2 separate regions of the Homo sapiens genome follow, and region 2 is linked to region 1. A link means that fine-mapping ties the variant in region 1 to the expression of a gene that starts in the linked region. Tissue or cell type: whole blood. Region 1 holds a variant in brackets; the other region holds the start of a gene. All regions are shown on one strand. Distances are from middle to middle.

Evidence for each region. PIP is the estimated chance that this variant, and not a neighbour inherited with it, causes the effect.
Region 2: AOAH starts here. The variant in region 1 is fine-mapped to the expression of AOAH in whole blood (INTERVAL, PIP above 0.99).

The regions. Positions count from the first base shown.
Region 1 is chr7:36,504,670-36,512,830 of GRCh38, forward strand. No RefSeq gene overlaps it. Among named protein-coding and RNA genes, the nearest start is that of AOAH-IT1, 91 kb to the right of the region's middle. RefSeq lists an enhancer at 690-1,889. The variant G/C (reference allele first, on the strand shown) is at 3,179.
Region 2 is chr7:36,719,709-36,727,869 of GRCh38, forward strand. AOAH (acyloxyacyl hydrolase) reads right to left here and starts at 4,786. Exons shown (of 21, transcript NM_001637.4): 1 at 4,314-4,786. The coding sequence starts at 4,440.

The DNA.
Region 1 (8,161 bases):
GGCCCTGCCCACATCCTGCTGATTGGTCCATTTTACAGAGTGCTGATTGGTCCATTTTACAGAGTGATTATTGGTGCGTTTACAATCCTTTAGCTAGACACAGAGTGCTGATTGGTGCATTTTTAGAGTGCTGATTGGTGTATTTACAATGCTTTAGCTAGACACAGAGTGCTGATTGGTGTGCTTTTACAGAGTGCTGATTGGTGCGCTTTTACAGAGTGCTGATTGGTGCATTTACAAACCTTTAGCTAGACACAGAGCATTGATTGGTGCGTTTTTACAGAGTGCTTATTGGTGCGTTTACAAACCTTTAGCTAGACAGAAAAGTTCTCCAAGGCCCCACCTGACTCAGAAGCCCAGCTGGCTTCACCTCTCAGAAGGAGTCCGTGGCAACATGGAGTCCTGTCTGAGCCCTGCACCACCCACCACTGGGTGTCCTTTATGTGAGAAAAATAGCCTTTCTTTTTTTTAAAGAAAAACCCATCATTACTCTGGATTGTACCCATAAGCAGTAGAACCTAACCCTAAAGACACTTATGTCCTCCAGTAGACTAGGAGTGTGTCGGTATGTTTCCCTCTATGACAACCATGCGGGAGCTGGATCTTGAAGAAGGAGTGTTCCAGTTTCCTGGAGGAAACAGCCTATGGAAAAGCATGGAGCTGTGAGAGGGAGGGCCTTTTATTCAGTTCACTGTTGCTGCATAAAACCCCCCTCGGAAACTTAGAGGCTTGAAACAGGAAGAGTGCATTATATCCCATGGTTCTGTGGGTTGGCTGGGCTCGAGCTGGACTGGAAGTCCAAATGCTCATTCATACTTTTGAGGCCTCAATGTGGGCAGAGGTACCTCAGTTTTTTTCCATGCAGCCTTTCTCCTTCACGTGGTGTGTCATCCCCCAGGGTTTCTCTTGCAGGAGTGCAGCCTGGACTTCCCCACATTGATAAAGGAATTAAGAAAAAAATCACTTAGGCAGATAGTAAGGGTATGGGAGTCCTCGGTAAGTCTTTTCTCTCTAATGAAAAGCAGCGCCAACTCATTTTATAACAGAGCAGCCTGTAAAGTCTAGCTGCAGACATAGACAAGCAAGCTGGGAGCTTGCATGGGTGAATGCTGGCAGGAACTGGGGACTAGACATGTTCAAGATGGCAGCTCCATCTTCCCTTCTTCGTCAGCCATGTGTACAGTAAAGAGCAGACAAGATGGCGCTGATCAACTAAAAAGTCCATCTGAATAATACGATTAGGGTGGGGTGACCAGCCTTCCACACTATGTAAGCATCATACCTGATAGAACCAATCTGTGAGCCCTAAGTAAATCAGACACAGCCTTCCCCAGCCTGCTTATAAAATCTGCTGCAGTCTGCTGCCTCCCTGCTTTTCAGATGCCTTTCTCTCTCTCTCTCTCTTTCTCACAGGGAGCTGCTTTCCTGTCTCCTTTCTTCTATTAAACTTTCCACTCCTTAACCCACCCACATGTGTTCATGTCCTGAATTCTTTCTCAGGGAGAAACAATGAATGCCAGGTATATACCCCAGACAATGTAGCCGTTTCAACATGGTGGCTGTGAGATCTAAAAGGGTGCAGAGGGCAGCTTCACCTCCTAAGGGCAAGGCCTGGGTGTGGCAGTCTCACTTGCATTTCCTTCTCTGGGCCAGCCCAGCTTCAAGGGGTGGGAAAGATGCCGCCTCTTGTTGGAGGAGAAGCAGGCACACGCAGGAGGGTGGCCATTTTTGGCAGCCAGCTTTGGAGACTTACCTACTGCCCATGTTTTGTAATGACAAGCTTCCTGTGACTGGGATGCAGGATCAAAGAAGAAATGGGCGGGAGAGAGAGCCTGGAGAGACATGGACTCTGCAGGTGACGAGTTTGGAGTTTACGCTACAGACAAAGCTGACTCTAGCACATGTGGTGGTCAGATCACATCCTGGTTATAATGATGCTAAGAGCCACTGTTGATTCACCACTCAGCATGTTTTACATACGTCATCTTCTTAATAAATGCAGGATAGCCTAGCAGCTAGGGGCAAGGACCCTGGAGCCAAATGGCTTGCCTTCAACATCATAACTCATCACATTATTGTTATTGAGACAGGGTCTCACCCTGTTGCCCAGGCTGGATTGCAGTGGTGCAATCATTGAAATGGGCTCAAGCGATCCTCCTGCCTCAGCCTCAGCCTCAGCCTCCTGGGTAGCTGAGAATATAGGTGTGCACAACCATGCCTGCCTGACTTTTTATTTTTGTGCAGGGCCCTCACCATGTTTTCCAGGCTGGTCTCAAACTCTTGGGCTCAAGCGATCCTCCTGCCTTGCCCTCCCAAATTGCTGGGATTGCAGGCATGAGTCACCATGCATGGCACCTGACTCATCACGTATTAGCTGTGCAGTCTCAGGCAAGTTACTTAATTGTTCTCGGCCTCCTATCTGTAAAAGTAGGGAATCATAGCAGACCTGCCACATGTGGTTGCTGTAAGGGTTAAGTGAGATCATATATGCACTCTACTTGTCACTTACCCCTCTGTAAGCATTAGCTCTTGTTAATGCTCACAACAGTGCTGGAAAATGGTACTATTGCTCCCTTTTTAAGGAGAAGGTAACTGAGGCACCAGGAGCTTAAGGCTTCCAAGGCCTGTTGCTTCATGAATTCCCACTGATTGTGTTTCCATGTGTCCCCAGCTCCAGGAGGCAGCTGAGCAGAATTGCATTCTTTCCATGAGACTTACACGAGCCTGGAGTCTCTACCTGTCCCTGAAGAGTCCTTTGCTCCCCTACAGCCTCACTCAACCTCCTGGCTCCAACTGATATTTGCAGAAAATCACTGTAATAATATTAACAGCTGGGGGCTTTTCTGAGCCTGTACAAAGTGTGCATCTTGGAGGGCAGAGTCCTTAGGTGAAACTGAAAGTCTTTGGGGTCTGAAGCTGCCTTGAGCCTGGACAGGTCATGGAAGCCCTTGGTGCATCCTCTCAGCCGTCTTTCTGCTGAGGTTTATTGACTGGAGCTTTGTGAACCTGTGAGTTACATTAGCGCTCTGAGGCTGGAAGTCTTCCTGTAAATGCTCCATGTAATTAATTATAAACAAAGCAGCAAGCCAGGAGCACAATACCCAAATAAATCCTTAGCGAGCCTCAACATGTGCTCTTTATTTCTCCTCTGCCTTTCCATCCATCCAAGAGCTTCAAA[G/C]TGTAATCCTCCTTAACGACAGGTTCATGATGATGAGGCCATTATTTTTGATACTGCAGTTTTAAGAAGTGACCCAGAAAACAGGCTTTACAAGCAACCTCTCCCCATTCCCCTTTACCCTAAGCAAAGGCCCAGATTAAAAGAGCCTTAGCTTGTACGAATATTTATGCTAGAGCCTCTGCCAAATCAGATTAGGGGAGTTCATCCCGCCAGGCAAACACGGGTTCTGTACTCAGATTTAATGAGAAACTGACATGTTAATAGCATATTGATGCATCCATCCATCAGGAAATCCATATAGCACAGTGAATGTGCGCCATGCATCTTGGGGCCCAGGAGAGATGCTGTCTTTGTCACTTTTGGTTCCACCAGGAAAGCTGTTGTTGCAATGAAAGGGATTCCAAAGACATTCTGCCTCACACCAAAGATGAGAGGTCGGGAATTCTGGTCTTAAAATACCTGGGAAATCCCTTTCTTGACACTGCCAGGGAGTGTGTGAGACAGAGGCTAATTCCTCTAAACAACATCTTCCAAGGTGCTTCTGAAAAAGCAGATGCCACAGAGTGTTAATAGGCATCATGAGAACAAAAAGCTTAGGTCAAAATCTTGGGTAAATGATGAGCGGAGCAGAGTTTTTTGGTTTTTTTTTTTTTTTTGAGACGGAGTCTCACTCTGTCACCCAGGCTGGAGTGTATTGGCGCGATCTCGGCTCACTGCAGCCTCCGCCACCCGGGTTCAAGCGATTCTCCTCCCTCAGCCTCCGGAGTAGCTGGGATTACAGGTGCGCACCACCACACCCAGCTAAATTTTGTATTTTGTATTTCACCATGTTGGCTAGGATGGTCTCAATCTCCTGACCTCGTGATCCGCCTGCCTTGGCCTCCCAAATGCTGAGACTACAGGGGTGAGCCACTGCACCCGGCCCAGACTTTTTTACTGTAGAATTTTCACCCTGTGACTTTCCAGGAAGCAAATAAATTATGCTGTGCATCCAAACTTTTCAGACTTTGGAGTTCTTCCTTCTCAAAGCACCCCCACCCCACCCACAGCGCATACATCCTTTTTGTGCCATGCAGCCCCTTGGCAGTTTGGGGAAGCCTGAGGATCCCTTCTCAGAATAACATTTTCATTTTATTTTATTTTAGACACGGTCTTGCTCTGTCAACAGGCTGCAGTGCAGTGGCAAGATCATGGCTCACTGCAGCCTTGAACTTCCAGGCTCAAGCCATCCTCCCGCCTTAGCCTCCTAAGTAGCTGAGACCACAGGCATGTGCCACTATGCCCAACTAATCATTTTGACTTTTGGTAAAGACGGGATCTCACTGTGATATTCAGGCTGGTCTGGAACTCCTGAGCTAAAGCAGTTTTTCCACCTTAGCCTCCCAAAGTGCTGGGATTATAGGCGTGAGCCACTATGCCCAGCCAGAATAACATTTTTAAATGCAAAAAAACAAAACATGTAGGATTACGAAGAAAACCAATTCTATTGAAATAGAATATCAAAGAATATTTTGAGATATTCACAAATGAGCATATATAAATATATGGGCTTCTTTTTGAACGTGTTAATAACCAGATCCAGAGTTGGTTCTAATAACTACAGTTGTTTTAAGGTATTGATGTTTTAAAGTATAAGATATAGTTGATCGGCATCGTTCACTGATCACATATTTGTGAATTCACCTCCTTGCTAAAATTTATTTGTAACATTAATGTATACTTGTGGCGCCTTTGCAGTCATCTGTGCCCATGCACAGACCAATGACAAATTTGAGTTGCCCAACTGGCATGTTCCCCAGATGAGATTGGTTGGCAAAGTGAAGTTTTGCCTTTTTTTTTTTTTTTGAGACAGAGTTTTGCTCTTGTTGCCCAGGCTGGCATGCAATGGCATGACCTCGGCTCGCTGCAACCTCTGCCTCCCAGGTTCAAGTGATTCTCCTGCCTCAGTCTCCAGAGTAGCTGGGATGCCAGGCACACACCACCACGCTCAGCTAATTTTTGTATTTTTAGTAGAGACGGTGTTTCCCCATGTTGGCCAGGCTGGTTTCGAACTCCTGACCTCCAGGTGATCCACCTGCCTCGGCCTCCCAAAGTGCTGGGATGACAGGTATGAGCCACTGCGACCGGTCAAGTTTTGCCTTCTTGTTTCAGCTCTCATACTGCAAACCTGTGTCCTCTTCGCAGTATACTTAGTGCCACATTTTTGGCATTTCATGCTTTTTCCCGGTGATGTTGCTGTTTAAAATGGCCATGAAGGGCAGTGCTGAAGTGCTAGCTAGTGCTGCTAAGTGATGTGCCACAGAAGACTGCAACGTGCCGCACCAAGAAAATCACCCCAGTGGTAGATGAGCTCTTTGCAGGCAGGAGTTACAGTGCTGTTGCCTGTGCGGTCAATGTTAATGAATCCACTGTATATTAAATACGGTGTCTTTTGAACAAAAGCCACACGGAAAACAGTTATATATTGATTGGTTGGTGAAAATGTTGAGACTGCAGGCTCACAGGAACCTAGCCTTGTACTTCCCCTAAGGACAATGGTTCAGCATGTGCTAATTCAGTGTTCATGGCAACTTTATAGAACATAACTGCTACAAAAAATAAGCAACAGTAACTGCAACAACTGCAATGTGATGTGAAAATATTTGTGACAAGGACTAATTCAGCTGTGTTTTGTTACCTACATTCATTATGAAAGGAAATGCTAAATTTTAGCATTAGCATTTAGAAGACAGTGAAGACTTATTTTTTTTCCCATTCAAGTTTACAGGCACTATTAATTCTGGGGATCCCTAAGGACCCTAGTTAAGAAAATTTTCTCAGTTGGATTAAATCAGTGACAGAGCAGGGAGGGATTGGGAAGCTGGTGCGGATTCTGGGGAGATTCAGGTCCGGTCACATTGTGTATCAATACAAGTCCCATATAGAGATTTTTAGCTGATCTGCTTTTTCTGGGGGGCTGACTTTATTTTTGTCACCAGGGCCTGAACCCAAAAGGCTCAGCATGAAATGAAAAATGCTCATGGTGGGTGGAAATAGAAATTTTGGTAATTACTCATGTGGCAAATAGTGAGCTCTATTTCAATAGTGTAGGGCAAGCCAGGTCTCTCCTCTGATAACAGGAGAGAGTATCTGTTTCTTTTTTTTTTTTTTTTTTTTTGAGACAAGGTCTCATTCTATCCCCCAGGCTGGAGTGCAGCGGTGCAGTCTGGGCTCACTCCCTCGACCTCCTGCTGGGCTCAAGTGATCTTCCCAAGCAGCTAGGACTGCAGGTGTGTGCCACCACACCCAGCTAATTTTTGTTTTTTTTTTTGTTTTTTTTTTTTTGTAGAGACAGGGTTTCACCATGTTGCCCAGGCTGGTCTTGAACTCCTGAGCTCAAGTGACCCTCCCACCTCCGTCTCCCAAAGTGCTGGAATTATAGGTGTGAGCCACAGTGCTCGGCTGGGAGACAGAAATTATAATAGAGTTTTGGGGTATTTAGATGAAGATCACATAAGAGCCCCAAGTCCCCTCACCAAGTGTGCCCAGGGAAGAAGGCGCCTCTGATGGCTTTTCTTTCTCACTCTTCTCACCGTGATGAGCGAGGAGCGTGATTCAATGGGTCTAATTCAAATGTGTCAAAAAAGAGGCTGCTGATTTTACTTTTAAATAGCAAGAAATAACAGTGTGACCTGGAGAGCAACACTAACTTCTCATTCACTCATTCATTCAGTGCTATTTCTTGTGCGTCTGCAGTGGTCAGGCATTGTGTTGGGGGTTGGACACAGGAGTACACATGACCGGCCAGGTACCCATCTCATGGAGCCTGCAGTTCAGGTTCCGGTGCTTTTTTCCACAGCCCCTCCAGGAATGGGGAGATGGGGAGGGCAGCATGCCAACCCAGGAAAGCCCTTCAGGTGCCTGTCAGTGGACAATCCTCAGACACCATCATTCTGGAAAACTCAAGGCTGAAGACAGTAGCTCAAGGGGCACCTGTGCAGCAATACGGGATAGGTGCTGTTATAAGAAGTACGCAAAGCACAGGGACGGCATTCTCAAGCCAGAGAGAAAGACTTGGTCAAATCTCAAAGAAGGAACGTGTCTGGAGCATAGAAAATGCAGGCAGAAGTGAATGAGCCTTGCCCGGGCACCTGATCCAGGGCAGAGGGCCTGACCTCAGACTCCAGTTTTGCAGGCAATAGTGGTATTTAGTAATGATTTCCATGTGGTATTTATTTGCAGTATTTGTGTTTTCTGAAAAAGTGAGATGGGGTCAACGTCCTCTTCCACCCCTCAGTTCCTTGGTGCTGTGCCTCAGAGTAAGGTCAAAGCTCAGGATTTGGGTACCTTTGTTTTCCCACCTGAGCCCATTCAAAAGATGGAACTGGTTAGATGTTAGGTGATTCCCCAAGGTTGTGAGTGGTCAGGCCTAAGAGAATTTAAACAGTCTTTTTTAGAGGGGTGGGAAGTGACAGGTTCAGAGAAGACATATAGGGTGGGAGAAGGGAGGTAGTCAGGCCGGGAGACCCTCCCTTTACTCTGGAGTCTTCCTGTACAGATTAAATAAGTGTACTTTGGGTATCTATCACCTTAAATATTTGTCTTTTCTGTATGCTAGAAACATTCAAATTATTTTCTTCTAGCGATTTGAAATGAAATGTACAATAGCATTTAGTAAACTATAGTCACCCTACTGATCTGTCAGACACTAGGCCTTATTTCTTTTATCTAACTGTACATTTATACCCACTAATCAACTAATAAAATACTTTAAAGGAAAAAAATTGTATTGTCATTTTTCTGGACTTTGTGAGGTTATATGGCACTTTGTCAACTTTTAAACATTTGTAATTTGTGGTGATTTCTTTCCTCATTCTAAATGTGTATTCAAGTTCATGTCTAATTTTGTATTTATAGTTTTGTGTTATGTTTTTCAAGGGGGCCTCATGAAGCCTGCTCTGCCCCCTTGTGTGAGTCCTTGGCAGCTGGCCAGCCGCCTGCATA
Region 2 (8,161 bases), 220 kb after region 1:
TTGCTTGGGCCCAGAAGTTTGAGACCAGCCTGGACAACATAATGAGACCCTGTCTCCACGAAAATAAAAATAAAACAATTAGGCAGGCATGGTGGTGTGCACCTGTAGTCCCAGTTACACAGGAGGCTGAGGTGGGAGGATCACTAGAGCCTGGGCTGTTGAGGCTTCAGTGTGCTATAATTGTACCACTGCACTGTAGCCTGGGTGATAGAGTAGGACTTTGTCTTTATTAAAAAAAAAAAAAAGATGAATCATTCTTGCTCAGATGGGATGATCAGAAATCCAGCTGCCTAATCACCTTTTGCTCAGAAAAGTTTCTGTGGCCTGGGTTCTTTCAGCAAGCAGGTGAATGCAACAGAATCTTTGAGATAACTGAAGCTTCCTTCTTTGACTAGCAATATTCAGGTAGAAATGTTTCTAGAATTCTAAAGTTTTTTTTTTTGTTTTGTTTTGTTTTTTGAGATGGAGTCTCGCTCTGTCGCCCAGGCTGGAGCGTGGTGATGTGATCTCGGCTCACTGCAACCTCTGCCTCCTGGGTTCAAGCGATTCTTCTGCCTCAGCTCCCTGAGTAGCTGGGACTACAGGCATGCCCCACCGTGTCCTGCTAATTTTTGTATATCTATATTTACATTTTTTTTTTTTTTAGTAGAGACAGGGTTTCACCATATTGACCAGGCAGGTCTCAATCTGCTGACCTCGTGATCTGCCCACCTCAGCATCCCAAAGTGCTGGGATTACAGGCGTAAGCCACCACACACGACCTAAAATCTTAAAGTTTTAAACACTCTTTTTGAGGCTATTACTTCACCTTCCCCAGGTGGCTTTATGAGCGGAGTCTGCAGTGCCTGCTTCCAAGCTATGAGCCTCTGCCCTGCACTTCATGGTGCTCTGCTGGCTCTGGCATTGGCAGTTTAAAGAGTTTTAGAGAAAGGGTATTATCAAGGGCACTAAGGGCCCAGTTCAACATTCATTTTAAAGGACTGTAATCTTTACAAGGCTCCAGGTTTTCGTTTTCCTCTAAACTGGACAGTGAATTTCCTGAAGACAGACATTCTAAAAATCCTTCCTCTCCTTCATCTGTGTATCCCTGCTCTCGCATATTCAGTGGCCATGTGAGAACTGAGTGCGCGGAAATGTTTGGGGACCACCTTTCTGCTGGAGGGTTTGAAGTCATGTAACCCTGCTTTTTGTCAGAAAGTTGTTAGGGTGTTGGCAACAAATGTAGAGTTAGAAGAACTCCAATCAACAATTCCTTCTCTTTTCTCCTCTCTTCCACACACTTCTTCCTCTTCCCACCAGCTGCGAGAGAGCGGACCTCACTGCTTCCTGAGATGCTTCCCACATACAACCCTTCCAGCAGGTACACCCCAGGATCCCGTATCAGGAGACACTCGCTCCCCAGCTTCTGGAGCCATTGGTCTGAAGGATTATGCCAGCATCAGAGTCCCTTGCCAGAACTGTCTCCACCAACGGGAGATGTCTCAAAATTACAGCCCTCCCCTGTGGTCAGGTCACATCGAGGGACTGTTTGATGTGGGAATTCCAAGACCTGCACCTACTTCAGGACAACTCTGAAGAGCTATTTTAGTCCCAGAGCTCTCAGTGGGACTTCTTTTATGGCTGCAGCACAGCCCGGCTTCTCTCTGCCAACCCCACTGCCTTCCTCTCTTGCTCGTCTTTTTGCCAAGAGCACTTCTCAATAAACTCCCCTGCACACACATTTCTAATCCTGTCTCCCCCAAAAGCCAACTTCAATCAGTGAAGCACCAAGTTGGACCACCTTCAGCCCCTGTCTCAGCACATAGGCAGTGCTCAGTAAGTGTTCATCACAAGACTGGACTCCTCTTGCACCCACCTTTCTTGCTATTATGACAACAGGTGAATAAGTCACCCAGGCAGAGTTAACCAGAAGAAGTTGGGAGTTGCTGGGAAAATGGATGCTAAATCATCCTCAAACCTAATCAGCAACAGAGTCTCCAAGCCCTTGGGGCCATGAGAATTTGTATGGGCAACCAAAGTGAACCTCTGTGAATGATAGAGATGACCACACATTTCTTGACCCTCTCCATCAAAATGAAGGGTCTCTGCCCCCTCCCTTTGAGTCTGGGTGGAGGAACTTGTGAATGCTTTGAGCAATGGAAGATGGCAAGTAATGCTGTGCCTGTTTCCAGACCCAAAACTTGAAAGATTGGCAGCTTCTAATTCCTGTCTTTTGGAATTCTCTCTGGGATTCCTAAGCTGCCAGGTAAGAAAGCCTACTACCCAAGATAGCCATGTGTGGGCACTCTGATGGCACTCCCAGATGAGCCAACCCTCTAGCCATTCCCTCACCCCTAAGGTGCCAAATATGTGAGTGAAGCTGTTTTTGTCAGTCCCAGATCCATCAATCCACCATCCGAATACCACCTCCTAACCTCGGTCACTCCTACATGGAGAAGAAGAATCACCAGCCAGTGTTCGAACAAATTTTTCACCCATAAAATCATAATACAACAAATGGTTATTATTGTAATTTTTGATGCAGCAATAATAGAAAAACCAGAGCAACCCCATCCTGAAATCTCCCCAACACCTCCTTCTTACCCTCTATGACCTCACTGGGAACAGGGCAGAGAAAGGAATGTGTACCTCCTGTCCATTTTACTGAAGTGAAGGTCCAAGGATCTCAGCCCTGACAACTTGCCCAAACTCAAACATTTAGTTTGCAATGAGCCCAGAAGTAAAACTGATTTCATCTGAGCTTTTCTCAAGTGTATTTCCATTTGATGGGCAGTAGGGTTTTGTTTTGAGAAAAATGAAAAGGTGGCAAATAGTTATTTAAGGAAACCAAATACTGGGGGAGGATGATCTCCCAGGCATGGTTCAAAGGACCACACACCTCTGCCTTCAGGTCTCTGGAAAATAGTCTTGGGGAATCTGGGTCTTAATTAAAACAAGACTTTGGAGGCTGGGCGCGGTGGCTCATGCCTGTAATCCCAGCACTTTGGGAGCCAAGGGGGGCGGATCACGAGGTCAGGAGTTCGAGACCAGTGTGGCCAACATAGGGAAACCCCATCTCTACTAAAAATACAAAAAATTAGCTGGGTGTGGTGGTGTGCATCTGTAATCCCAGCTACTCCGAAGGCTGAGGCAGGAGAATTGTGTGAACCAGGGAGGCAGAGGTTGCAGTGAGCTGAGACTGCACCATTGTACTCCAGCCCAGGTGACAGTGCGATAATCCATCTCAGAAAAAAAAAAAAAAAAAAAAAAAAAAGGACTTTGGAAGTAGAGATGCATCTCCTAACATGTACAATGACCTGAGGCCATGATTTTGAGGAAGTAGGACAAATTCAGATATATTTCCATATTGTCTCCAGAAACAATTCCTAAGTGTCAGAATCTGTGTCCAGATTTTCCATTTGCAGCATGTAGCCATCAGACTTATCCTAGAGTTATTTTCCTGGCTTCTCAAGCTAGGATTGTATTTTGAGGTCTGCTCATTGAACAATTACTTACTACTCAGAGTTCTGAGTCTATGTGGCTCCATGGACTGTACCATCTAAATGCCACCACTATTATGAGAATTCCCATGTTATGAGAGCTACAATGTGAATATCAAAGATCTTACCTTACTTCCTGCTCTCATCCAAAAAAAACAAACAAAAAAAACCTCTTGGAAATAAAACACTTCATTAACAGATGAGCCAAGAAGCCATATCAACGCTCAGCGTCTCCAGGTGATCGCCAAATCTGGATTCTCTGAGAGACGGAAGGAAGCTAAGATGGTTGAGTCCTTACTGTGTGCACATGCCACAGATTTACATGCATGGTCACAATTTCCATGGTATCCCTATGAGATGGGTCTCACTCACTTCAGTTCACCAATAAGGACACAGAAGCATGGAGAGGGTTAAGTACATTGCTCCAGGTTTCCACAGCCAGTAGGAAATGGGAGAGAAGGGTAGGAGGAGGGCAGTGATTCAAACTCAGATGTGTTTATATGAGGTCAAAGCCCATGAAAAGCAGTAAAAATTTCAGACTAAAATAGCCTGAAATAATAGTTACCTATACAAGAAGAAAAAATTCCAATCGCCAATGAGGTGGAAGAGTTTTATGCCCAATTTAAACTAGTATGCTTTTTATTCACATAGATGTATGTAGTGTCAATGTCTACTCTTAGACTCCACATTTCTCTGTGTCAGTGAGGTTACTGGTGCCTTACCTGGAATCTTACAATTCTTGATTTAATAAAATATGTGATTTATTACGCAAGCAAAGTACTGGATCCCATTGTTATGTCTACATAGAAAATACAAAAATATTTATTTGCATACCTACACAGGTGTGCCCATTCGAGAGGCTGGGCCTGGACTGGTCATCGTTGGCTGGAGAGGCCGAGGACTGAAGAGACAGGAGCAAGAATAGAGGCGCCACCGTAAGGATTTTCCAGGGGGACTGCATCTCCGAGCTATGCACCCCAAGTGATCACCCGGCTTTGGAAGCTCCCAACTGAGGGATGCTGGAGCTGAGGCTGCAGAATCAATTGATCTCTCTCTCCTTCTCTTCCTCACTCTCTTTGACACACACACCCCACCCTCTCACATACACACTTTTCAATAAGTGTGAAGTGAATAAAAGCACACATAAACACTCACAGACCCACAGCTTGCTCTTGTTGGACCCTGAGAGAGCCACACACAAAGAGCTGGAGGGAGTCTGTGGTGTGCGGTTCTGCTGAGGTAAAGACTGCAGGATAAAGAAAACCCAAGTTGCACAGTGGCACAACTTCCGTGCTCCCTGGCTCAGTGAAGTTAGTGTGCATAAACCCCGTGAGCCTCGAGGCTTGCCGGAACTGATCTGTTGGGTTGGTTAGGAGGCCCTTCCCCTTTCATTCTTGCAAAACAAAACAAAACGATACTAAAGCCAAAACTGAGAAGAAAAAAGAAAAAAAAAACTAATCCACAAGCACACAACCCTTTAACAATTTGATCAGCAGCACCCACATATTGTAGAAATTCTAATTGGTTACATTCAGAACTTACTTAGTCTTGTTTTCAACAGCTTTATATGGTAAGGTTGTGATCCTTATTTTGTTGTAAAAGGATATTCTGGTCAAATAATATCTTTCCTCTGGAGAAATTGGGTTATTCCTTGAAGGGTCAAGGCCTTTTATTTGGTGTGCAGAAAATAAACAGTACAGAAAATAATGGGCAGTTAGCATGGTGGGATTTTAGACCTAATGAGAAAAAACATGGGTTAGAATTAATCAATTCACAGTTGCTAGGCTGTGCACAATGCATCTTTTTTTTCTCCAGAATTTCGAAGTGCATTTTGTGGATGATTTGTTAAGAGACTGATTTTCTGCTCTGAAGAATAGAACTGAACACTGTCTTTCTGAGGGAAAAAAAAAATCGGAACCAGATCATAGATAAAAGACATATAATCTAAATGTTTCTCTCTAAAATAAGATAAAACAAAATCATATGCCATTCTCAGTCAAGATAAGAGGACAGGGCCAAAGTACCACAGTCTAGGTAAGTGTAGGAGGTCATGAGATTCTGTTTCTCTCTGCTTAGGCTCTGAGGGAGCTTATTACAAATTTTGAAATATTATAGAAGCTATCTAAATTGTTAGCAATTAAAAAAAATAGCATTTGGAGTAGCAGGCAAAGTTTTAGAGTAGCATCCTTTCCAGGATGTAGGAAATACCAGTTTTTATGGTTGGAAGATTTCTTGTGCAGTCATTAGTCTTACAAGCACCGATGGGGCTACAATTCCCAAACCTGCTGCAGAGATAGCACAAGTCAGAGTGTTTCCCTAATTACACTTCCAGCCCAATACTGAGGATATCGTTAGGCGTCCATGGGCCTGTGACTTCCTCTGACTCTAAGGTGCTGCTGCTTCAGTTCTTCACTCTGTGACTAAGGGGAGCTCTGGGGTCACTAGGACCACCACAGGGGTGAGGCCTAGAGAAGTTCCAGAGACTTCCAAGGGAGGCTAAATAAAGGACTGATTGATTAGGAACTCAGATTGTGAAGACAGAAAGGCTCATGCTTACGTCTCATGTCTACTGTTTATTCTGAGTAATATATTAGACCAGTGATGTAACTTTCCCCCCTTCAGTGTCTTGTTTTTGTTGTTGTTGTTGTTGTTTGTTTGTTTTTTGAGACAGGGCCTTGCTTTTTCATCCAGGCTGGAGTGCAGTGGTGTGATCACAGCTCACTGCAGTGTTGACCTCCTGGGTTCAAGTGATCTTCCCACCTCAGCCTCCCAAGTAGCTCATTTCTATTGGGATAATGGTAATATCCGCTCCAATGCGCTGCTGGAAGCACTCGAATACATGATGTATCCAAACAACAAAGCAGCATGGCTGGCAAGAAGTAAGTGCTTAGTGCATCTGTCTATGACTCTAGCAGGAGTGTGATGAAACCTGCACCCCAGACCAGCTTCAAGAGAATTCCAAGACGCCCATGGTAGTTGTAGGCCATCATGTCATACATGGGAAATGGTGAGGACAGGAAAAGGGAGGATTTATTGAATACCTTCCAGCTGTGCTACAGCACTCCAGGAGTGTGTGGTCTAGTTTGTCTAATCCATAAATGGGTGAGGACTCTCCTGAGGGCTTCTGGAAGAGCATTTGACACAGGCTTTGGGCCTCTTGAGGCTCTCCTGGTCTCAATGTATAGCTGCGAGCAGGTCTGGAAACTCTTAGAGTGAGAGGGATTTCTTGGTATGCCGGAAATGCAAGTTTTGTGCCCTTCATCGCATGTATGTGGGCCAGGCAGTGCCATTCACAACCATCCCAGGGATGGTCGGCTCTGAAACTCTCTAGTGTGCTCAGGCTTCGGGGCTGGTCACAGTGGGAGTCGCTGACTTAGCTGTGCAGTATTGAGCAAGCCCCTTCCTGTTTCCAGAGGTGACAGTCCTCAGCTAGAAAAGGGAGGTGAGACTATCTACTTCGTAGGAATATATCATGGTAAAACCTGACACATAGGTTTTCAGTAATGGAAGGATTTTTCATGCTTGGAGGGTGAGTTCTTACTGGGCATGATCAAAGGAAGAATGCAGAAATCAGAAAGTGATTTCGCCAGCAGAAGCTGGAACAAAGTGCACGTGTGCACAGACCACTGAACAAAACATCCCTCTCCGTCACCAGGATGGAGTGGACCCTCCCATTTGCACAGTTGTCCTTCACACTGGCTGGTATCATTGCCCCTGACAGGGCTGCCTTTGCTCATCAAGTACTGAGTGCAAATGACTTGGGATCTTTGCACAGCTTGCCAAAAGGCCCTGGACCTACCTGTGGTTTAGAACAACTAGTCAGGCCCTGGAGAATGTTCCTGCAGGACCCCACTGTCAGATGTTCCAATTTTGAATCATCTCGAAATCTGCTCTTGAAAATGAGATTTCTTCCCTGAAGCACTTTGTTACTGATTTCACTCAAACAGCTCTGATTCAAACCACTGCTTTCCCCTGTGCCATGGAAGGCTAAGGCTTTGTGATCCCCAAGTGTTGCACCTGTGGTCTGCTTGTTCAGTATGAATATGCTTCCTGAATATTTTTTGACCACATTGGCCTCAACCACCTCATCCACAGCAAGTTCCTTAATCAGAAAAAAAAAAAAAAAAAAAAGAGGTGGGTGATGGGAGATCCTGTAAAAGCTGGCACTGTCACCAACACGTGTCTCGTCTTAGACTTTCTCCTCTCTCTAAGGCCCAGGTCCATGCTGCCCTGTTACTCCTGGCTGCCCAGGACTGTGTACAGCAGTCCTCAGTTCCCATCTACCAAAACCAGGCCCTCTGCTGCTCCCCTCCTCCTCAGTCAGAGCTTATTAACGCTAGCCTCATTCTATTCTGTTCTGCTGTCTGCTAAGGACAGGGTAAATTAACCCATGCTGAGGATGCATGGGGGCTCATTAAAAGAGCTCTGGGCTAGGATGGGGGGCCTGTGTCATGGGCTCCCCTCCTAGTAGCTGTGTGCCCTGGGTAAGCTGCTCCACCTTTCAGAATACCAGTTTATTTTACTATAGAATAGGGCATATAATGTCAATATTTAAGAAAATTGTGAGAATTAGAGAGACAACATGAATTTAAAAACATAATATTAACTGTTAGATGAATGTGAAGCTGACAATGAATTCACATTATTCTTCTCAAGTAGCATTGAAATTTTGGGGGAAGTTT